3 separate regions of the Homo sapiens genome follow, and all the other regions are linked to region 2. Evidence: fine-mapped expression QTL. A gene starts in region 2. Each other region holds a variant in brackets. All regions are shown on one strand. Distances are from middle to middle. Region 1 overlaps CFI (complement factor I). Region 2 holds the start of CFI (complement factor I). Region 3 overlaps CFI (complement factor I).

The links. PIP is the estimated chance that this variant, and not a neighbour inherited with it, causes the effect.
Region 1: its variant is fine-mapped to the expression of CFI in subcutaneous fat (FUSION, PIP 0.95).
Region 3: its variant is fine-mapped to the expression of CFI in subcutaneous fat (GTEx, PIP above 0.99). The same link has a PIP of 0.9 or more in sun-exposed skin, thyroid and tibial nerve.

The regions. Positions count from the first base shown.
Region 1 is chr4:109,737,515-109,745,702 of GRCh38, reverse strand. It overlaps CFI (complement factor I), which reads left to right. Exons shown (of 13, transcript NM_000204.5): 12 at 3,108-3,212; 13 at 4,593-5,008. The coding sequence ends at 4,810. Among named protein-coding and RNA genes, the nearest start is that of PLA2G12A, 12 kb to the right of the region's middle. The variant A/T (reference allele first, on the strand shown) is at 4,990.
Region 2 is chr4:109,797,977-109,806,164 of GRCh38, reverse strand. It overlaps CFI (complement factor I), which reads left to right and starts at 4,166. Exons shown (of 13, transcript NM_000204.5): 1 at 4,166-4,250. The coding sequence starts at 4,194. It overlaps LOC124900757 (a long non-coding RNA gene), which reads right to left and starts at 2,493. Exons shown (of 2, transcript XR_007058226.1): 1 at 2,330-2,493.
Region 3 is chr4:109,758,992-109,767,179 of GRCh38, reverse strand. CFI (complement factor I) reads left to right here. Exons shown (of 13, transcript NM_000204.5): 2 at 356-626; 3 at 2,490-2,643; 4 at 5,488-5,663; 5 at 6,544-6,657; 6 at 6,800-6,910. Among named protein-coding and RNA genes, the nearest start is that of PLA2G12A, 33 kb to the right of the region's middle. The variant A/C (reference allele first, on the strand shown) is at 4,682.

The DNA of each region.
Region 1 (8,188 bases), 60 kb after region 2:
TCTCACTCCCCTCCTCCCTCTTTCCCTATTCCCCAGCACCTACCCTCTCTACAAAGAAAAAAAGAACATAAGGAATTCATTTTTTGAACTTCTAAGAAGACTTGTGGTGAACACTTCATACGAATAAAAGATGTGGACACTCAGAGACAAATTCTTAGAAAGATCTGCTGAATTAGAGATTAGATTAGAATTAAACTAGTCAACACCTTTCCCTTCATCTTGAAGATTTAACCTTGGGCTGGGCATAGTAGCTCATGTCTCTAATCCTAGCACTTTGGGAGGCCGAGGCAGGTGATCACTTGAGCCCAGGAGTTTGAGACACTGTCTCTACCAAAAATTTAGAAATTAGCTGGATGTGATGGTGTGTACCTGTAGTCCCAGCTCCTGGAGGTTGAGGGGGGCTGAAGTGGGAGGATCACTTGAGCCCGGGAGGTTGAGGTTGCAGTGAGCCATGATTGTGCTACTGCAGTCTAGCCTGAGTGACAGAGCGAGACTCTGTCTCAAAACAACCACAAGCATAACAGAAAAAAAGGAAGATTTAACCTTAAAATTTAGCTTCCTTTCAACATCTTAAATTCTCTTTGATAGCAGAAACTCTAAGTACCTTCATTGCATTGGTCTTTTAGACTCATATTCCAACACATTCATTATAATTGCCACATTGGAAGGTGTAAAATATATGTAGAAATTAATCTGGATTTGTGGTATGTCTGAATACCTAAAACTTCTAAAACACCAAATTGTATTAGGAATTAATTCATCAAGAGAGTATTGTGTCCTTATACTTGTTCTGTTTTTTTAAATCTTTTATTATGTGCATTTACAAGTATACACAAAAATAGAGATTAAAGTATAATAAACCCTTACTTATCCATCATCCAATTTTCACAGTTATCAGCATTCTGTCATTCTTGTTGTATCTCCCCATATTAATTGGGGTCTCAATGGAGCAATTAGGAAGATTTATTTATAAAAGGGTTCATTACAAAGATATACGTAGGGGGTTGGGGAATCACAGGGGCTACGCAGGTACCCAGGACTAGAGGTACCAGAGCTGTCTTAACTCCTGGATCTGAAAGCGGAAGAGTAGGAGAAGTTACTAGATGGAGAAAAAGTCTCAGGTAGAGCAGGCTGCCTTGAGAGAAGCAAGGATCTTGAGCTGAAGGGTATAGCCAGTCCCAATCTCACTAGCCTACCTCTTTCCTTCCCTCCCTCCTGCTAGGGTCCTCTTTGTCTAAAACCACCTGGGAACCAGAGGCCACAGGTCAGGCTCTTAGGGCAGGATGCACGGCATTGAAGGGTGGAGAATGGTCTGAGGCACATTCAGGAGCTATTCAACATATTCCCCCACATATTTTTCCTGGAGTATATTAAACCATATCCCAGATGTCATATAATTTCACCCATGAATACTCCAGTATATATCTTCACCAGATAAGGACACAACACCATTTTCATACCCAATAAAATAAAGCCCATGTTTAATATTCCTCATTTATTTTTAAAAATATTTTTATAATCAGGTTATTTGAATCAAGATCCAAACAAAGTCCACACATTGCATTTGGTGGTTATTTTTCTTAAATGTTTTAATCTAGAATAGTTACCCCTTCCTTTTATTTAAAATTTAATCATTAAAGAGAATGGGTAATTCTTATTTTGGAATTCCCATACCTTGAATTTGGCTAATCACATTCTTTATCTGGATTTTTTTTTTTGAGACAGGGTCTTGCTCTGTTGTCCAGGCTAAACTGCAGTGGCACAAACCTAGCTCACTGCAACCTTGAGCTCTGGGGCTCAAGCGATCCTCCCACCTCAACCACCAAAGCAGCTGGGACCACCATGCCTGGCTAATTTTTGTATTTTTTGTAGAGATGGGATTTTGCCATGTTGCCCAGGATGGTCTCAAACTCCTGAGCTCAAGTGATCCTCCCACCCTGGCCTCCCAAAGTCCTGGGATGAGCCACTGTGCCCAGCCTGATCTAGCATTTAACATGTTCCCTTATTCCATGTACTTCATATAAACTGATAGTTAGATATGTCCTTAATCAATGATCAAAGGTTTAACACATTTATTAATAATGGTTTAACACATTTATTGAGGATTTACTATGTCTGCAAGATAGCAATGCTAAAGTGCTAGGATTTCACTGATGGAAAATATGGACCCAGTCAACAAACAAGGGGATGAATAAGTTCCATGGCTGAAAGATGAAGTCCAGCTCTCAAGGTGTTTACTGACCACCTTAAAGTCTAGTAGTTAAAATTCTGCCCTTTCGCTGCCTCAGCTACCGTCGGAGAGCTGCCTCAAGAAGCTTACAAGAGTGCCAAGGCACAAACTATCTCCTGGGCCATTAAGAATTGCTCACAGTTTTAAAGGCTTTTCCCAAATTAGAGGAAATAAGAAATTACTATTTTTAAAAAAGCTCTTGTTCTAAGGAAGGCAGGTGTCTTGAGACTAACTTGAAGTAGAGCTTAAAGGAAAAAAAAAATAAACTCCTTCCTGGCTGGGCACGATGGCTCATGCCTGTAATCCCAGCACTTTGGGAGGCTGAGTGGGGCAGATCACTTGAGGAAGAAAATCTTAAATCCCCTTTTAAATAACTTCAAATCACTTAGGAGATGGATTTTTCTTCTCAGACACACAAAAACACACAAACATTGATAACTTCGTATGTATTTCCTTTATTTGAAGTTCTTATATTAAAACATTGTTTTTGCTTTAACAAACATTCTCAAGGAAATAAGGGACTGTGAGAAGATAGGAGGTATTTATGTGAAAAGACCTTATCACTGATTCCTATCCAATTGCCTGACTGAGTTCTGCAACCAAAAGGGAAAGATTTATCTCATTCAACTTAAGGTACCAGCTCTTTATTAAATGAATGTGACTTCAGACCATATGTTCAATAGTCCCCCTTGACTATCCATCCAATTTTAGAAATAGACATATGATATGATTAAACACGCTAAGGAAGAGTTCTCAAAAATTTATATATATTGAAAACTATACACCCTTTCATAATCCCAATGGTTTAAGTTATGAGAGTATGTATTTAGATTTCTCATTTGTGACTTCTAAATGTTTGCTTTCTCACTTTGTTTAGATAACGAAAGAGTCTTTTCACTTCAGTGGGGTGAAGTTAAACTAATAAGCAACTGCTCTAAGTTTTACGGAAATCGTTTCTATGAAAAAGAAATGGAATGTGCAGGTAAGTGCCAAGTGGTTTATCCAAGATGTCAAGATGTATGTATTTCCCCTATCAAACATCTCCTCCCACCACATCAGCCCCCATGCTTTGGGCCCTAATTCCCTCCATTTGGCCTTCTGGCTGTAGCACTCTCAAACTCTTTCAGTCCCTTCCCTGTAGCTCAGGTTTCTTCCTCTAATACTATGAGGAAAAATCCTCCTTAAGCGATTCTATAGCAGCACAGCAAGGTGACTAAGAGCACGGCCTCTGGAACCAGACCTAGATTTATATCCCAGCTTTTACTAATTGCTAGTCATGTGACCTTGAGCAGGTTTCTTCATTTGTAAAATTGAAGATCATAGATAAGGCATCTGAGATGCAGAGCAGTTACATAATTTGTCCAAAGTCTTACAGACAAGAGGTGGTACACCCAGGATCAAAACTAAATTACTTTTAAATACAAATTCAAGTTATCTCATCTCAAATGAGATGAGATTTACTTCCATTTGGAAGTAAATTTTTCCCTCCATGGAAATCACAGCGCATTTCTTACGCCACGGACTCCTTTGATAACATGGTTAAGCTAATTCTACTGCCCAATACAACAATAGCAGCTCCTACTTTTGGAGGTGATACAGAGGCAGGCAAAGTACCAGCCAGTGTAGTGCATTTAGGTGCTTTATTGAAACCATTTCTAAATGGTGTATTACTGAAAAGGCAGTTATTGACATCCTATAACTTACTGGTTACAGTGATTTAAAAATCTCAGAAAATCATGAGTAAGAAGAAAGTGTCCTCCCATCTTGAAATGGAGTTCAGGATTACAGTGGACAAAATAGGTGAATAGCACAAAATCTCCCAAAAGGGAGTATCATGGTCAAGAGGACAAGCTCTGAGGTGTGGTTGCCTGGGTTCAAGTCCAGGCCCTGTCGTTTGTTAGCTGTGTGACCTTAGACAAGTTAAACTCCGTGTCATAGTTGTCTTATGTATAAAATAGGGGCAATAATGATATTTGCCTCATAGGGTTGTGGTAAGAATGAAGACAATGAATGACTAATAAATATTTAGCACTCAGTAAGCACTAGGCAGTCCCATCATTTTCCTACTCAGCATTTGATGCAACTTTCAGGTTGCAATCTCATCTCAGTACTCAGTCGTATAAAGTAGAGAACACAGGAAGAACATGCTGAATTGGGGGAATAAATAGAAGACTCGTAAAGAATTTTCCAAGCTGCATCTCTGCAACTCTGCAAGCCCAGCCAGGGACTCTAAGGAGAGCCCATGCTATTGCTGTCAGGAAACTGTAAAAAAGCCAAAGTTGTTAAATGCCATGGAGGAGGCATGGCAGCCTTGAAAAATGGAAGGAAATGTGTGATTTTCTCTTTCACATTTCTTTCTTAGGTACATATGATGGTTCCATCGATGCCTGTAAAGGGGACTCTGGAGGCCCCTTAGTCTGTATGGATGCCAACAATGTGACTTATGTCTGGGGTGTTGTGAGTTGGGGGGAAAACTGTGGAAAACCAGAGTTCCCAGGTGTTTACACCAAAGTGGCCAATTATTTTGACTGGATTAGCTACCATGTAGGAAGGCCTTTTATTTCTCAGTACAATGTATAAAATTGTGATCTCTCTCTTCATTCTATTCTTTTTCTCTCAAGAGTTCCATTTAATGGAAATAAAACGGTATAATTAATAATTCTCTAGGGGGGAAAAATGAAGCAAATCTCACTGGATATTTTTAAAGGTCTCCACAGAGTTTATGCCATATTGGAATTTTGTTGTATAATTCTCAAATA[A/T]ATATTTTGGTGAAGCATACAAGTTTTATTTATCAGAAAATTTTATTAAATTATCTCAATGCGGGAGTGATTTATTGACTGAAGTTACAACTAATTGAATAATGTTGGACTTACATAAGGTTGGGTTCAAATCCCAGCTCTATCACCTACTATGCCCTGGACAATTTATTGTCTTCTTTGTGTCTCCTTTTCCACCTATAAAATGGAAACTGGAATTCTGTGAAAATGAAACTACATACTTACATAAATGTTTGGCATAGTACCTGTCACAGGGTAATAACTGACTTCACAGCTCTTGTCCCATTTCCCTGCTTCCTCTTTATTTCTTTCTCATCTTTTCTCTCTTTCCTTCTTTCTTTCTCTCTTTCTCTCTCTTTCTTTCTTTTTCTCTTTTCTTTCTTCTCTTTCTCTCTTTCTTTTTTTGAGGCAAAGTCTCCCTCTGTTGCCCTGGATGGACTGCAGAAGTGCCATCATAGCTCACTGCAGCCTTGAACTCCTGGGCTCAAGCAATCATGCCACCCCAGTCTCCCGAGTAGCTGGGATTACAGGTGCACACTACCATGCCTAGCTAATTTTAAATTTTTGTAGAGAGGCATCTTGCTTTGATGCCCAGGCTGGTCTTGAACTCCTAGGCTCAAGGGATCCTCCCACCTTGGCCTCCCAAAGTGCTGGGATAACATGCGTGAGCCACCACACCAGGCCCCTGCTTCTTTAAGTATTAACATTTCTTGAAAAATTAGCCTTTGCTCCCCCATTTCACAAGCATTCCTTGACCCTCTCTCTAAACCTATCCACAGATAATTCAATACAACCACCTACCTCCATGGTGTCAGACCTCACAGTCACTTCTGTTCTCATCGCAGCAGCATTAGCCCCTCAGGGCATCACACTCCTCCCTCACTGCTGTTCTCAGCCTCTTCCTTCTGGTTGCTTCTCTCACTTTGCCTTTCCCTGGTAATCTCATCTAGACTACGTTTTAAATCCTGCCTACAGTCCGGTGACTCACAAATCTGGATCTTCAGCTCTGACCTTTCCTAGAACCTCAGATTAGTATATGCCACTGAACACTAGTATATACCATTGCCATGTGAATATCTAGTAACATTTCAAAAGAAAAGTGGTCAACCCAAACTCAACAGTTGCACTTTCTTAACCTACAGAAAATAGCACCCCCACCCGACCCCAAGGCTATTGTAGGTGCCCAGTCTCCCTCTGTCACACCACCTACTTTAATCTCAGCATAGTACTTTTCTTCCCCCAGTGTATTCTGTTTTGATTGGGTTGTCTACCTCTTCTCAACACTGTCTCCTCCAACTACAACATAAGACACATGACAAGAGAGACCTCATTTGTCTTCCTTCTGGCTACATCCCTACCACTTGCCTCATAGAGGCTGCTCAGTGAATAAACATTAGCTACTCTTTTTTTTTTTTTTAAGCACAGCTATCTTTATCCTGAAGACAGACATATATGTTTCACATAAATATTCCCTTTATTATTTTATTTAGGGCCAGTCTTGGATAGATCCCTACTGATTTAATAATATAAATACCCATTTTTACATATATTCCAAAATCAGTTACTGCCCAGATTTTCTTTTAAAAATTGTGGTAAAATATGTATAACATAAAAGTAACAATTTTAACTATTTGTAAGTGTAAAGTTGAGTGACATTAAATACATGCCCATTGTTGTACAATCATTATCACCATCCATCTGCAGAAAATTTTCATCTCCCCAAATTGAAACTTCATATCTATTAAACAATAACTCACCACTCCTCCCTCCCATGCTGCCCAGATTTTTCATCCATTAAATTCAGGAAAGTATTTGGTTATTTATTGCTGGGAAGTTCCCCTTCCAGTCTCTCATGCTGTTGCCGTCAGACAGGATTGGACCAGAGTTATCACGAAGGCTTATTCACTCATGTGTTTGGTGCCTGGGCTGGGCGGACTTAGACAGCTGGGGCTTCTCAGATATGTCTCTCTGCACTCTCCCCATGGGCTCTTAACATGGCAGGGCCGGGGGCACCAGACTTCCTACATAGCAGCCGATGAGCCTCCCAAGAGAAACTGCAGAACCTGCATGGCCTTCTCTAACCCAGCTTTGGAAGTCCCTTAGCATCACAAAGACCTGCCCAGGCTCAAAGGAAAGGAAATAACCCATCTCTTGATGGCGGCAGGGAGGAGGTGTATCAAAGAATTTATGGACATATTTGAAAACCACCTTGTCCTGACTCAGCAATCCGGGAGCAACGCAGCACCTTAGAATATGTCTGTGTATGAGATAAAAAGAGAAAAGTGGCTGGGCGCAGTGGATCATACCTGTAATCTCAGCACTTTGGGAGACCAAAGTTGGTGGATCATTTGAGGTCAGAAGTTTGAGACCAGCCTGGGCAACATAGCAAGACCCCATCTCTATCACACACAAAAAAAGCTGGGAGTGGTGGTGCACATCTGCAGCCCCTGCTACTTGGAAGGCTGAGGTGGGAGGATCATTTGAGCCCAGGAGGTTGAGGATGCAGTGAGCTGTGATTGCAGCACTGCACTCCAGCCTGGGTGACAGATCAAGACCTCGTCTTAAAAAAAAAAAAAAAAAAAAGAAAAGTACTCCAGTGCTACAAGGTGGGAAACCCAGCATATAGGGCATCCTCAGCCAATCTAGGAAGGGGGCCCCCAAAAGGGCCAAGCCAGTCTGCACAGTGACCTAGCATCTGGCAGCTTCACAGAAAAGTAGACCAGGGTCAAGCCTTGAAGGGTGAAAGTCAGCCCTCTGAAGCGACTCTATGTGACAGAGACCAGGAACAGCAGGAGTGAGATGACCTGACTCCAAGCTTCTCCTAGTTTAGAGGTCTGTCTCAGCGCTCCTAATTCCAGACTACAGAAGCCAATCTAACTGGTTTAATGAAAAAATAGATTTATTCAAAGATATTATGCAGTTCACAGAATTTCCAAAAGAGCCAGAGAATTGGAGTCTACACATCTGGAAATAACGCTCACAGACCACACTGCAGGACTGCTCCATCAGAGACTACCATGGCCACTAGCATGGGTCCCAGTCTCCACGTACAGCTTGTACTGCAGAGCCTGGGCACTGGACATTGCTGCTTCTGTGAGCTCGCCTGAAGGTGGCCAGGGACACAACTCATTGGATGTGGAGCTCTGCCATCGTCTTATATTTAACCCTGGTTTCAGAGCTC
Region 2 (8,188 bases):
GCCTGGCACATCGGTAAAATTTTTAGGAAACCAGTGTTCAGGAACGTGCTAGCACATCCTCTTTAATGTAAAAGACAAATTATTGTATCTTGTACTTTCTTTAACAAAGAAGGAAGCACAAAATCTGATGAGGCTTTTTGGACTCTGGGAGCAAATATTCTGCAGTAGGGAATACTGCTCCAGCTGCCAAAGCAGAAATGGCTTCTGCAGTGGTCCAGCAGACTCTATGGCATCAGAAGTCTCAGTGATGGGGGAAAAAATGCTGTGTGGTGTTTGAGGAAGATCCTGTGGGAGAACCACAATATAGGACCTCAGGGTTCTGGAGCAAGGCCATGCCATCTGCAGCAGAGAATTGTGTGTCTTTTAAAGACCAATTTGTATATTACTGGTTCCTGGTAAATGTAGAATAATGAATCACAGGACACTACATCACCATACGGCCAGAACTGCCCATTATGATCTGGATCCAAATGGACCCGCAAAGTATAAGGACAAGCAGGCCTAGGAAAAATGTATTGTAAGATAGAAGTGTGACATCCAGAGCCAAACACAAACAGGACCAGAGGTATGAGCAATGTGCATAAACAGGTAGCAGGTAGCCCAGACTGCCCCTGTCCCCAGCATCCAAACAGTTGCACTCATGGCCCTTCCTTAGCTCACACCTATAGCTCCCTGGGGAATTTGGTATGACCAGCTGAAGGAGGAGAGAAAAGGTCACATTTTGTTTACAGATGGGTTGGCTTGGTATATAGGCAAGTTAAAAATAGACAGAGGCAGCTTTACAGCCACACTTTGGAGTGGTTTTGAAAGACAGTGGTGAGAGAAAGTCCTCCCAAAGGGCAGAGCTGCAGGGGGTACACCTGGTCATCCACTTCGTGTGGAAAGAGAGGTGGCCTGAGGCTAGACTTATATAGAATCACAGGCAATAGTGATTTCCTGATCATCTTTTGTTCCTGAAATGAAAAATATTCAAAGATCAAGAGCAAAAAGTTCTGGGAGGCAAACAGCAACTTTAGCCTGAGAAGTGAATGGTAACCAAGGGTTCAGACCACTCCTGAAAGAGACCGTGGGTCATGTCATCAGGTACGTCACTGAGATCAGCAGAGGTGGGAGGTCGGAGTGAAGAGAATCTAGAATGGATATGTGTACATACAGGACTGGGCATGAAGTATACAAATCTTTGTATCATGGCCAGGCACGGTGGCTCACGCCTGTAATCCCAGCACTTTGGGAGGCCGAGGCAGGTAGATCACAAGGTCAGGAGATCAAGACCATCCTGGCTAACACAGTGAAACCTCATCTCTACTAAAAATACAAAACATTAGCCGGGCGTCATGGCGGGCGCCTGTAGTCCCAGCTACTCAGGAGGCTGAGGCAGGAGAATGGCATGAACCCGGGAGTCGGAGCTTGCAGTGAGCCGAGATCACGCCACTGCACTCTAACCTGGGTGACAGAGCGAGACACTGTCTCAGAAAAAAAAAAAAAAAAGAGAGAGAGAAAAAAGAAAAAGGAAAAAAAATCTTTGTATCACATGTTAATGCCTACTAGAAAGCATCCACCAAAGAAAAGGCACTAAATAACCAACAAAATGGCTCAACCAGTTTGGCTCAACAAAACGATTGAGCCAAAATGACTGAGTCTCAGTCATCAGCCACCCCACTGCTGGCACGATGGGCACAAGAATGAAGTGACCGTGGTAACAGAGATAGAGGCCACCCATGAGGCCAATAGCACAGACCCCGAGGCTTATCTAGCTCCCATCATTAACAAATGCCCAACCTGACAGCAGCTGACACTAATACTGTCCCCACAAGATGGCACAATTCCTCAAGGAGACCAACTAGTCACTTAGTGGCAAATTAATTACATCTGATTCTTTCACTCTTTGGAGGGTCAGTGGTCTATTCTTACAGGAATAGACATATTTGAGGTATGAGTGTGCCTTTCTTGCCTGCAGGGCCTCCATTAGCACCATAATCCAGAGAATTATAGAGTGCTTAATTATCTAGCAAAGATCACATCCTGCCAGACAAGGGTGCCCACTTTACAGCAAAGCAGGCCCAGGAGTGGGCCTGTGATCATGCAATCCCCTGGTCATATCACATACCACACCACTCAGAAGCTGGTGGACTTACAGAATGTTATAATGGGCTGCTGAGGACAGAGCTGAGGTGCCAGTTAAATGCAAAACTTTGTGAGAATGGGGTGCTATCCTCCAGGAAGCAGTATATACATTCAATCAAAGACTTTCATATAGCATTATGTTCCCAATAGGAAGAATACCTGGGTCTGGGAACCAAGGAATAAAGGCAAGAATTACCACACTTACCATCACCACCATTGACCAACTGGGGGCTTTGTGCATCTTGTCTCCACAGTTGTAGACTCTGCAGGGTTCGTTATCTTGGTCTCCAAAGGACTATACTTTCACCAGGGGCAAGCAAGAGTCCCATGGAATTATAAACCAGAGCTGTTGCCTGGGGTACGCTGGGCTCTTTGTGTCTAGGAACTAGCAAGAAAGAGTCAGAATCCACAAGGGTAATTGGCCCTGATCATTCCGAGGAAGTAGGGCTGCTATTACTATAATGTGGGCAGGGAGGAAGATGTGTAGAACCCACATAACCTACTGGGGTACCTCTTATTTTTTGCTTTTTTTGGTTTCTTTTTTAAGAGAGGGTCTCTCTTTGTCACTTAGGCTAGAGTGCAGTGGTGCAATCATGGCTAACTGCAGCCTCAACCTCTCCCTGTGTTGCCCAGGCTCATCTCAAACTCCTGGCCTCAAGCAATCCTCCTGCCTTGACCTCCCAAAGTGCTGGGATTACAGGAGTGAGCCACCATGTCCAGCCTGCCTCTTGTGACAGTAGGGATAAAAATGGCAACTTTTGCCTGAGAAACAAAAGGTAACCAGGGGCTCAGACCACTCCTGAAAGAGAGTGTGGGACATGTCATCCAGTAAGTCACCGAGACCAGCAGAGGTGGGAGGTCAAGGTAAAGGGAATCTAAAATGGATAGGAAGGGGGCCAAGGGTAAGTTTCAACTACAGCCCCAAGATCAACTGCAAGGGTAGGAGCTGTAGTTTTTCCCATTAACTTCCTCTTCTAAGTTTTCTCTCAAGAATAGGGACCCACTGAAATGTTTAAGGAGCCACTCCTGGAGTGTATATGGAACATAGATCTAAGAGGTGCAAGTATGTACTCTGAAAGACACAGAGATGAGTTTCCCAGAACCCTTGTCAAGGAAGGTCTTGCTACCTGGCTGTAAAGAGTGTAGTCAGAAGATACCTCCTCCTGATAGCACATAACTGTCAGATCCTTCTGTGTCTGCCTTAGCTACAGAAAACTGTCTCACCTAAGTGTATGCCCTTCCTGGGCAATATATAGTAGGGGACCAAGCAAGGCAGAATATAATGGCCCAGCCATTTATACTGAAATCAGGGGCACTGTGACAGGTCACACTCACTCCAGTTCAACTTCTACCTCTGTTCACCCCTGCTTCCCCTCCCTTCCTTGTATGGATATCGATCCCTAACAAACACTTGTGCCCCACACTCACTGTCTCAAGTCTGCTTCTGATGAACCCAACTGTGTCAGCATTTCTGCTATCACAGATTTATTTCATAAATAGATAAACCCTGCATGATAGTTGGTACTGGCACAAGAATACTTGTTTTTAAAATTTCTTGTACTCCAAAAATACAATTTGATCACAGCACAACAAATGCATGGTAAAGAAGCTGGTTTCTAGAGTTTTAAATGTATTTTGCAGCCTTCACTATATGGTCTACTTTTATTCTTACTGTCTCCTAGTCTTCAACCTTAAGTTTAAAAAATTATATTTTTACTGTACAAAAAAAAAACCAAAAAATTGCTTCCAATATAATTTCTGTCTTCCCTGGAATACAGAATTGAGTCATTGCAATTAACAGGGTGGGAGGAAATCAGTCTCTTCTGGTGGAAACAAGTTCCTATTGGTCACCTCCCTCAGCTCTTTAATGGGAAGGCCATTTTTTGGTTTCAGTTACGGTAAATCTCTCTGGATTTCAGCCAAATTCTTTCAGAGTTCAAAAGTACAAAGCTCTTTAGGAGGTTTGTTCTTTTGAAACATTTTTTCAGAGGTTAAAAATTAAATTTCAAAAGAATACCTGGAGTGGAAAAGAGTTCTCAGCAGAGACAAAGACCCCGAACACCTCCAACATGAAGCTTCTTCATGTTTTCCTGTTATTTCTGTGCTTCCACTTAAGGTTTTGCAAGGTAAGTAATTCAACCTTTATGCAAACAATTTTAATTGATAATTTAAAGGTTGTAAAAACATAGAAAATAATCTTAAATATATAATTTTGATTTAAATATTACATAGTTCAGTTACAACAATGCCACTCTATAGTCAGCAACAAATGTTTTATGTTAATATCTTGATAAAAGTGATTTTTTAAAAATAGTTCTTTTTATGTGCTTATATATGCAGAGGCATTGAACTGAACAAGAATTTTACTAATACAAGGCTGTGATTTACTGTAATTGTAGTAAATCAAAAATATTTACCAGGCTCCTCCTGTGTGTAAGGTACAGTGCTACGAAGACAGTGAGACTGATCTCTTCCTTCAACAGCCTCTTAGTACGCTCTATAGTTATAGAAAGGGGAAATAATAAGCAAATTTGAAACATCTGAAAACACAAAAGTGCAAGTTACAAGACAGTATATATTTAATTGTCAAAAGTGATACAAATATGTGGTAAAGGACTTCAATGAGAGGACAAATCACTTCATGCTGAGAGGTCATGAAGAGATTATAGATCAAGTAGGATTTGAGCTGAACGTTTAATTCTGTATTACATGTGATCAGTGGTGAGAAAGAGGAGTGATTTCCAGCTTCTTTAGCCAGGAAAAGCAGCAAGTGCTACCATAGGAAGGCAGCAATGCACTAGGCCCCTCCAAATAAATGAATCCATTTGATCAGAATGAAGGCTTTGTGGGCTACAAAGGAACTCGAAACTGAAATGACATATTTTATTGAAGTTAGAGTGTCATCTATTAAGGTGAAAAATGTTTAAAATATTTTGGATACTTATTGATGATTGCCAACTTTGGTGGCAATCCAAAACTATCTTGTCTTAGTGCCAGCTTGTAGAAGAAAATATTTAAAGAAAACTACTTAAGAAAACACACTTTAAGATTCTTGTAACTTCTAAAATAGTTGCCATCATTGCAATGTTTATAATAGAGAATAAATGGAAATAACTAAATGCTTATTAATAAGACACTGGTTAAATTATTGTATATCCAAAATTGAACTATTACATAGCCATTGAAATGACATATTTATCTAAATAAAAAGTCCTTACTACAATTTTATTTTTATTGAAGAAAAACACACACACACATATGTATGTGTGTTTATATGCATATATATAAATGCATACTTATACCTACTTATATATATGACTAAAAGATCTTACAGTGTATGTATCAAACAGTTAATAGTTGCTATCATTGGCTAATAAGATTACTGGTGATTCTATTTTCTGTTTTCGGTTTTACTGAACCTACTCAGACAAGGAAACTAGGGGATTCAGAAAAGATGGAAAAGAAACCCATAGCACAGTGGGAGTGGCTGCTGGGGCCTTCTAATGGGGGGAATAACCAGAGGATGTTCAACAACAAGGAAGCTGACTAGGTGTGGGGGTTCACGCATGTAATCCCAGTACTTTGGGAGGCTGAGGCAAGAGGATTGCTTGAGCCCAGGAGTTTGAGGCTGCGGGGAGCTCTGATCATGCCACTGTATTCCAGCCTGGGTGACACAGCAAGATCCTGTCTCAAAAAAAAAAAAAAAAAAAAAAAAAAAACAGAGAAGCCAAATATTTCAGTCAACATGATTACCTACCATAATTGTGCTGTGACGTAATCACCAACTGATACCCTAAATTTTATTTTACCCTAAAATTTTATTACAAACTCAGGCACATATGGGTGGCATTTTAGAGAGAAAGAACTGGGGTAATGTTAAGCAGAATGACAACATCCTGGAAACAAGGGTGGCACACAGGAGGGTGTGCAGTGCAAGTGATGGCAGCGGAAATGGCAGAGTAGGCAGATCCACCAAAACCAAAAACCAAAAATCCATTTCTACAGAAACCAAAGGGAAGCTGTCAGAACCAACTTTATTTAGAACTCTGGAAAACAGTCAAAGGTTTATAGCACCTAAGAAAATGTTGAATGCAGGAACAGGCAACTAAAAATGGTATGAAAGCTTAGTAGCATTTTGCGTGTCTGTCCTTTGTGTCCTTGCCCCATACCCTCCCTAATTTGGCAGTGGTCTTGAAGGATATCTGAGTACATAAAATAGCCTTAACACAATAACAACAAATTTTGGTTTATTAAAACAAGTTCACACATTGTCATTAAAAAGACATTTTGAAATTCACTGTATTCTCATTACCTTAGTTTGCAAATGTTAAAGCAATTTTCTTCTAAAAATACAAACTGTTTCTCTTACTATGCAGAATATTATCCTAATCACTTACCACACTTCTATCACCCTATCACTTATAATACTGTTGTAAACCAACCACTAAGTGGCCTTTCCACTTACAATTTCTTCATGTATCTTAGATTTCAGTTTCTTAATCTTCCATGGGAAAGTATATAAATCTGTCTATCTAATATGGAAGAAATTCTCCTAACTCTGGTGCAGCAAACACTGACCATGTACGTTTCTCACTCAGGGAGGGACCCGGTTCCCTAGCACTGGAAAGAACAGAGAAGACCTTATTCAAAAATAATGTGTTTGTCTTTTCTATCCTAAGGCCTTCCTGTAGGACAGACCCCAGGCACTTGTCTTGGTTTCACCTAGCTCAGAACTCAGAGCAGAAAAGCATTAATATTACAAAGCACAGGCATTGCAAGATTAATGAGCAATCTCAGCTGTCTGGGGCAAAGGATTACAGTGGAGGCACACAACAGAGCACCAAAGCATGGGGAAAAACTAAGATCCTATGGAAAATTAGGGCATTCAAAAGTGCCTGTGTGTATTGGGGAGTTTAGGAAGCCCCATACATGCTCAGGGCAGGATACATGCTCAGAAAGACCTCAGAAGACTCTGAGCCTGCACCTCTGGTGGTTGTCTAAGTTCAGTGCAAGTATGAAGTGAAGGCTAAGGTAGAGTTGCAAATGGCCTGGATGAGTGAGTGCCCAGGACAGAACCAATCTGCAAAGACTGGGAGAGATTTTGAGATTTTGATTTGTTTTTCTGGGTTTCTTTTTCTTCTCTCTCTCTCTCTCCCTCCTCTTGCATTGAAGGAAATCTCTGTCTAAATACTAGCTGAATATAAGTCAAAGGAACAGACTTCAAAGACCACATGTGATAAAGAATAGACTTGCCAAAAGTAGTTTAGAAAAGTCATCAAACAAACACCAAGCAACCAAAGCAAACCCCAAGCAACCAAAACAAACCCCAAGCAGAAGGAAGAGTCTGATTTCAAGAGTTACTGTAAGAGTCAAAGTGTCAACCAAAAATTTTCAACCAAAAATTATGATGCATGCAAAGATATGAGAAAGTATGGACCATTTACAGAAGAAATGAACATAATCTGTTCCAGAAGAACCACAAACTTTGGACTCACTAAACAAAGACTTAATGGTCTTTTTAAAAAAAAAAAACACTTTATTGAGTTATGATTGACATATAATAAACTCTACATATTTAGTGTACATAACTTGATGAGTTTGAGTTTGGAGATTAGTATATGTCTGTGAAAATATCACAACATATGCCATAAACGTATTCACCACTTCTAAAAGTTTCCTCTCACTCTCTTTATTTATTATTTTGTGTGTGCATGTAACAACTCTTAACAAAGAAATTGTGCTCTTAGCAAATTTTTAAGTATACAATACAGTATTATGAACAATAGGCACTATTCTGTAGCATAGATCTCTAAGAATTATACATCTTGACCTTTGACTAACACTTCCCTGTTTCCCCCTCACCCAGTCCTTGGCAACCACCATCCCACTCTCTGGTTCCATGAGTTTGACTATCTTAGATTCCTAATATAAGTTGTATTATGTGGTATTTATCCTCCTGTCCCTGCCTTGTTTCACTTAGATTAATGTCCTCTAGGTTCATCCATATTGTCACAAATGGCAGGATTTCCTTCTTTTTTAAGGCCAAATAATATTTCATTGCATG
Region 3 (8,188 bases), 39 kb after region 2:
AGGGTTTTTATGGTTTTAGGTCTAACATGTAAGTCTTTAATCCATCTTGAATTAATTTCTGTATAAGGTGTAAGGAAGGGATCCAGTTTCAGCTTTCTCCATATGTCTAGCCAGTTTTCCCAGCACCATTTATCAAATAGGGAATCCTTTCCCCATTTCTTGTTTTTGTCAAGTTTGTCAAAGATCAGATGGTTGTAGATATGCGGCATTATTTCTGATTCTTGAAGCCACCAGACAACACCATCCTCATCTGTACTGTGGGCTGTATCTGTTTTGCTCTTTTCCTTCACTTACTCATCTTCAAACAGGAGTCTTTAATTTGTTGCTAAGTTAATGTTTATTTTGCATTTTACAGGTCACTTATACATCTCAAGAGGATCTGGTGGAGAAAAAGTGCTTAGCAAAAAAATATACTCACCTCTCCTGCGATAAAGTCTTCTGCCAGCCATGGCAGAGATGCATTGAGGGCACCTGTGTTTGTAAACTACCGTATCAGTGCCCAAAGAATGGCACTGCAGTGTGTGCAACTAACAGGAGAAGCTTCCCAACATACTGTCAACAAAAGAGTTTGGAATGTCTTCATCCAGGGACAAAGTTTTTAAATAACGGAACATGCACAGCCGAAGGTAGCAAGAGACTAGTTTTCAAGTCATTCTATGATATAAAAGGGTATTTGTATGCCATACTTTCTATCAGAAAATAATTCTCTTGTGTATGTTATGATGACAACTCAAAATTTTTTTCTAGACTCTCAATAATAATTGGAGTAATCACTAAACAAATCAGGGGTTGCCAGAATCCAGCCAGCCTTTGAGTGCAGAGCGTGGGATGCTGAGTCCAGACCTTCCTTCAGTGCCGGTGCCACTCCCTGCTGCCCAGCCCTTTAGAATTGTCCCCACCCTCACTTCTACTTGGTTAAAGGGATTATTCCCAGGGCCATTGAGTTGGTTCAGAACCCAGTGAAAAGTCTTCCAGTAAGGTTGGTACTCACATGTAGTCTAGTCAGGCCTCAGGTCCTCCTGTGGCCCCAGTAATTTCTGTTTTTGTTTGTTTTGTTTTTTTGAGACGGAGTCTGGCTCTGTTGCCCAGGCTGGAGTGCAGTGGTGTGATCTTGGCTCATTCCAACCTCTGCCTCCCGGGTTCATGCCATTCTCCTGCCTCAGCCTCCTGAGTAGCTGGGACTACAGGTGCCTGCCACCATGCCCAGCTAATTTTTTGTGTTTTTAGTAGAGATGGAGTTTCACCGTGTTAGCCAGGATGGTCTCGATCTCCTGACCTTGTGATCCGCCCGCCTCGGCCTCCCAAAGTGCTGGGATTACAGGCATGAGCCACCATGCGTGGCCTACCCCAATAATTTCTTTCAACAGCCGTCCCCCCCAACCCTCTCCCCCAGCCCTGACCCCATTGTTCCTAAATATCCAAGGGCCGCTTGAGCCACTGCTGACCTGGGACATACTCCAACCTAGCAAACCCAGACGTCAGACCCAGAGATCTTGTCTACAGTCCCTTCCAGGTGCTTCATGTGCTGAGGAGGCTGGGGCCCTAGCATTCAGACTAGTGGGTAGTTATGATTAGGGATTTCGCTGTCAGTCCAATTGAGTTTCAAGTCCCTCCAAACCCCACCTTGGTTGTTGACAAGCTGGACCTCACTGGACCCCAGTTCCCTCATCTGTAAAATGTGAAGTTTCTAAGTTGTACAATTCTTGTGAAAATTAAATAAAACAATGTATGCAGGGCTCTTCACACAGTGCTTGGCATGCAGAAAGTGCTTGTTACATTTTATGTCTGACAGCAAAGCTTAGGTTCATTGTCTTCTGATAGCAAGTTATTACAGACACTTCATTACCTAAGGAATGCTTAAAACATTCTTTTTAAAGGCACCATGACATATATCAGCTCACAGCAGCCTGTATGTTTTTGAGATGCTGAGTTAAGATGTTGAGATACTGTGGAAAAGGAGGGGAAAAGCTCCCTGTTTGAGCTCATCTATCATCCCTGTTGGAAAGGCAGAAGGCAATAGTGGAGGTTATTTCATCAGTGTCAGACTTTTCTTCTCTTGAGGCATTAAATGCCTTAAATACACGAGAATACATAAACCCTTTCTACATTTTACATTTTCACGGTTGGGCTTACTTTTGAGAGCATGGACTTTGGAGTGAGATCAACTGAGCAAGTTCCAAATCCTGGCTTCATCACTTGGGCCAGGAACTTAACTTCCCCTAGAGGTTCCTTGTGTAAAAATGGGAATAAATAGGCTTTATCCTCATAGGGTTGATGTGAGTATTTAATGATCCTCTATACAGCTGAATAGCACTGCCGCTGACACATAATAAATACTCGTAAAATGATTGCTTACTATTACTTGTTAAAATCGTCATGATGTTCAAAGCTCACTTGACATTAAGTACATTATTATTTTTAAAGACTTTTAATTAAGAGAAAAAAGTGAATGGCTACATATTGCACATTATTTTGTTTTTTTATTTTAGGAAAGTTTAGTGTTTCCTTGAAGCATGGAAATACAGATTCAGAGGGAATAGTTGAAGTAAAACTTGTGGACCAAGATAAGACAATGTTCATATGCAAAAGCAGCTGGAGCATGAGGGAAGCCAACGTGGCCTGCCTTGACCTTGGGTTTCAACAGTGAGCGCTTGTATCAGTGGATTTTCTCATGGCTGATTTAATTGTTCTGTTTGCTTTTTGATTACCTAACCTTTCTGTGTATTAATTTCCATATGTGTAACCTAAGAAAATTAACTATGTGCATCATAGCATTGTTATGAGGATGATATGCATTCATGTTTACCCAACACTTGGAACCCTGCTGACAACAAAGCATGGATAATAAGTCTGTTGAAGTATCTGGATGTGAATCCTTTAGTGATTCTGAGAGTCACAAACACATTCATTTCTGTCTGTCTCCTACTCGTCTACAATTATGTACACTTTTTCACACTTAGTATAGTTTATATACTGTGTGTGAGTATAGTTTATAGTTATATAATATAGTTTATACTATAAACTATACAGTGAGTATAAACTATACAGTTATAGTATAAACTATATAGTTAGGATAAATTATAGTTTATAGTTTTATAGTATAGTTTACTATAATTATAGTATATAAGTATATATACTATGAGTATAGTGTACAAACTATAATTTATATATAGCTTATATACTATAATTATAGTATATATACTTATATATAAGTGATATTTTATTTATTGTTTGGTTCAGAATATCTTCTAACTTTCAATATAATTTCTTCTTTGCCCCATATGTAATTTAGAAGTTTTCTTTATTATAATATTAGTTTTAATTAATACGTTAGTTTGCTTTTGGTTAACTTTGTGTTATTGATTTTCTTATTCTGTGTGGTTAGAGAATATCCCTGTATGATAACAATTTTTTCAAATATTTGTTGAGACTTGCTTTGTGGCTGAGTATTTTTCAAATGCTCCACGTGCAGGGTTCTAGATAATAGATATGTTACTCATTATTAATAGAATTAGCTGCTCTGTTTAGATCTTTCTCTATTTCTTTACTTTCAGTCTTCCTATATCTTTAGATTTTAAGCATGTTCCTTATAAACAGCACATATCTAGATTTGTTTTAATTCAATATTACAATCACTGTTAACTAAAGAGTTTAGTCCATTTACCTTATTATACTTACTTACATTGTTGAATTTATTTTTCCTCTTGTTTTTAGGCTTATTATTTACCCTGCTTTTTGTGTGCTTTTGTCCTTTTTCCTTTTATAATTTCTACTAAATTAAAGATTTTTAAAAATCTTTCCTCTTTTCCACCTCTAGTTGGTTTGAAAATTATGCATTATATTTCTACTTCTTTAGTTACCTTTGAACTTATACCATAAATCATTGATTTAGGAAGTCCTCACCTTCAGTAATAATAGAAAAAAATGTAATTAACCCATCAAGTTTCTAATATTTAGTTCCACCTTATTTTTCTATATCCCAGAAGTTAATCACTATGATGATATAATAAGCCATTATCACTACTATTAAGGCAATGCTTACTCAGATTTACTTCATGTTTACCAACTTCTTGGTTTGTTCTTTCTTGTATCTCACCCCTTCTTTCTGAATTCAATTTTCTTCTTCTTAAACCACATCTGCTAGTAGTTCATTAGTGAGAGTCTCTTATATTGTTAAATTAAGCCATAGGCTATTTCTGAGTTTCAGCAGTTTGTTACCTACAACTTATGGTTCAACCTACTGGTAGATTCTCTCAGTATTTTATTTCTCAGTATTTTGCTCTTATATTTTGCATAAGCTCATGAACAGACATCTCTAATTTTAACCAGTGCAGATTTCCCTTACTTCCTTAAGAACTCATTGAGGAAGAAGATGGCATTTTATATAGTATTTTTAGATATTTTTAGGTTGGTACGTTTTTCAGATTATTAACCTATAAGATTGCCTCAAATGGCTCTTGTTTGTTCTCATGGCACAGCCTCATGATCTGAAATAATTACAAATCTTGGCTTCACCTTGTTTTATTTTTGCTTTTTATCCTAGTTAGTCTAATATTTATATTGTCATTACTGTTCTATTTTTGTTTCCATTTACCTGATGCATCTTTGCTCAATTTTTTATTTTTAACCTATTTTCCCCATTTACTTCTAGAGAGAAGCAAGGAACAATTGAATGTCCTAG[A/C]AGAATAGTTCACTGTAAATCATCATCTCTAGGATAATACGTCACTGAGGAAGTCTCTTCTCACAAATTCTGAGCAAATTGAGAAGTCCAAGCAATGGCACACAGATGCCAAAATATCACCTTAATACTGTCAAGGCTGAAGTGAAGATGTAGCTTACTGTAAAAGCAAAATTGACCTACAGGAATTAAACTAACCTAACCTTCCAAGTCTTAGGCAATAATTGAACCAACCAGCTAAAGTTTACAGCATGGGGCAGGCAGAGAGATTCCCAAAAGGAAAAGATGGAAATTTTTTTTTTTTTTTTTTTTAGACAGAGTCTCACTCTGTTGCCCAGGCTGGAGTGCAGTGGCACGATCTCAGCTCATTGCAACCTCCACCTCCTGGGTTCAAGTGATTCTCCTGCCTCAGCCTCCCGAATAGCTGAGACTACAGGTGTAGGCCACCACACCCAGCTAATTTTTGTATTTTTGGTAGAGATAGGATTTTCACCATATTGGCCAGGCTGGTCTCGAACTCTTGACCTCAGGTAATCCACCCTCCTTGGCCTCCCAAAGTGCTGGGATTACAGGCGTGAGCCACCACCCCCAGCCAAGTTTTAGTTAATCTTTACAAAACCCAGTGAGGTAGTTATATTCCCTTTTATAGATGAAGGTACTGAGGCTCAGAGTTTCGGTATCTTGCCCAAGCTGTAACTCCTATATAGAGAATGAGAGGACATTACTCTAGTTTCTTACCTGCTACAGTAGGGTTATAAATGCAAAGTACTAATTATTCTACCATAATGTTTCCTTTATTCTATTTGCAGAGGTGCTGATACTCAAAGAAGGTTTAAGTTGTCTGATCTCTCTATAAATTCCACTGAATGTCTACATGTGCATTGCCGAGGATTAGAGACCAGTTTGGCTGAATGTACTTTTACTAAGAGAAGAACTATGGGTTACCAGGATTTCGCTGATGTGGTTTGTTATACACAGAAAGCAGGTTGGTGGAGTATTTGCCTGTTATTTTCCCTTCCTTGAAGGTTGTTTATTTTACACCAAGCCTATAGTAAACAAATGATTGATGCCTCGTTGCCAGTCACAGAGGCAATAATATAGATTCTGTCAAGTTTTGGGCTTTAGAGTCTAAATTGGTACCTTTCCCCTATTGTACCATTTTGCCATTCAAACATTGCCTCTCTACAGGTTCACATATGGGAAGCAAAGTTGCCTGACTCCCCTTGCTTCATTTGAACATCTGGATTAAAGTTACTGTAGCAAACACAAGTCAATCAAACATAAGAAGAAAGCTCAGCATCTCCTTTAAGAGGGCCAGCATATATGAATTTATTTAAAACCTTTAAGTGACCACATTGGTGCCTCAGTTTTCAGGCATTCATTGAGACTTTTCTCCTCCTTCCTGACACTGGAATATTTTAGTCATACATGTAGTTTTAAAGACCAAACCTATACCCACTCCTTTTCAGTGCTAAAAAAAAGTACCACCAAAATGTAAACAAATGGCACTAACCAAGCAAGTCTTGGGAGTAGGGGTGAGGATGAGTATAGCAGCATGAAAGAAATGGGTGGAAACCAGTGTTTGTCAATGTCAGCACGTACTCTTGATTCCTCCCCATCTCAGCAAATATAGACTTTCACAATTAATACTGACTTTCAGAGATAATAGAAGAGCCTCCATAAGCCAGGTTTGACCTTTATTTTCTGTATGAGTCATATGTACTATGTTGATAATACCAATACGTTTTATACATTTTTTTGAAGTTTAACTTTCTCTTAATGACTCCATTATCCCAAAAATCTGATAAGGATGTCATGCCACCACTCCATAAATAAATTTCACAAAGATAATTCCTGCTTTACAGATTCTCCAATGGATGACTTCTTTCAGTGTGTGAATGGGAAATACATTTCTCAGATGAAAGCCTGTGATGGTATCAATGATTGTGGAGACCAAAGTGATGAACTGTGTTGTAAAGGTAGACATAAATCTAGCCTCTAAATCCTCTAAATTCATTTTTCTGACTAAAAGAGGAAAAGCAACTTTACTATTGAATTTTATATTGTACCTCATTCAACTTTAAGGAATGAAAAAAACCTCTCCTGCTTATGTTTGCACAGCATGCCAAGGCAAAGGCTTCCATTGCAAATCGGGTGTTTGCATTCCAAGCCAGTATCAATGCAATGGTGAGGTGGACTGCATTACAGGGGAAGATGAAGTTGGCTGTGCAGGTAATTGAAAGACTTGGGGTGACTTTTTTTCATTATTGAATCCAGGGATTCTGAAACTTTTCTTTAGGTAAAGTATAATCTTAAGGGGAACATAGATGGGTGTAGCAGTAAGAACACTGAGTGGGCATTTGCAGAACTATGGAATGTTCATCTCCTCATATTTTCATCCGCTAAATATCTACTTGTTATTTCAGAACTTTCTATTAAAAGACGGTCTCACTGCACATACAAAAAATAGACCATTAGAACCAATCCTTAAGTACCCATTTTCCACCTGCAAGTTATTGATAGTTTGCCAATCTTGCTTATCTCTCTTCCAGTTTGTTTGTTTGTATGTTTGTTGGAGTATTTTATTTTATTTACTATTACTTTTTTTGTGATGAAGTCTTGCTCTGTTGCCCAGGCTGGAGTGCTGTGGCACAATCTTGGCTCATTGCAACCTCAACCTCCTGAGTTCAAGTGATTCTCCTGCCTCAGCCTCCCAAGTAGCTGGGATTACAGGCACCTGCCACCATGCCTGGCTAATTTTTGTATTTTAGTAGAGACAGGGTTTCACCATGTTGGCCAGGCTGGTCTCAAACTCCTGACCTCAGATGATCTTGGCCTCCCAAAGTGCTGGGGTTACAGGCATAAGCCACCACACCTGGCCTGTTGCAGTATTTTAAAGTAAATTTTAGATATCATATCACATCATTTATATGCATCTCCAGTGATAAAAACACTATATATATATAAAACCATTCATTCTCTCATTTGTATATCTAAAATCTATGTTAGATATAATAATTCACTATAATAGTAATTCACTAACGTCATTTAATAACAGCCATGTTCAAATTTTCTCAACTATCTCAAAAATGTCTTTTTTGAATGAATAGATTCAAATCAGGATCTAAAAGAATCTGAATGTTCTGTTTGGTTATTACGTTTTTAAAGTCTTCTTTATTCATCAAGAGTTATCTTCCCCACCTCCCTACCCCAATTTTTTTCATACTATTATTATTTTTTTTTTTTTTAGAGAAACTGAGTCGTTTGCCTATAGTATACGTCTATTCTAGATTTAGAGAGACTTGATTATAACCAAGGTTTTGAGCTTCGAGTCAATGACAAATGAACACTTTTTTTTAAGAGCAAGGTTTAATATTTTAGGCAAGAATTCTTTTTATTTTCTTTTTTTGAGACAGAGTCTTGCTTTATTGCCTAGGCTAGAGTGCAGTGGCACAATGTAGGCTCACTGCAACCTCTGCCTCCTGGGTTCAAGGGATTCTCCCACCTCAG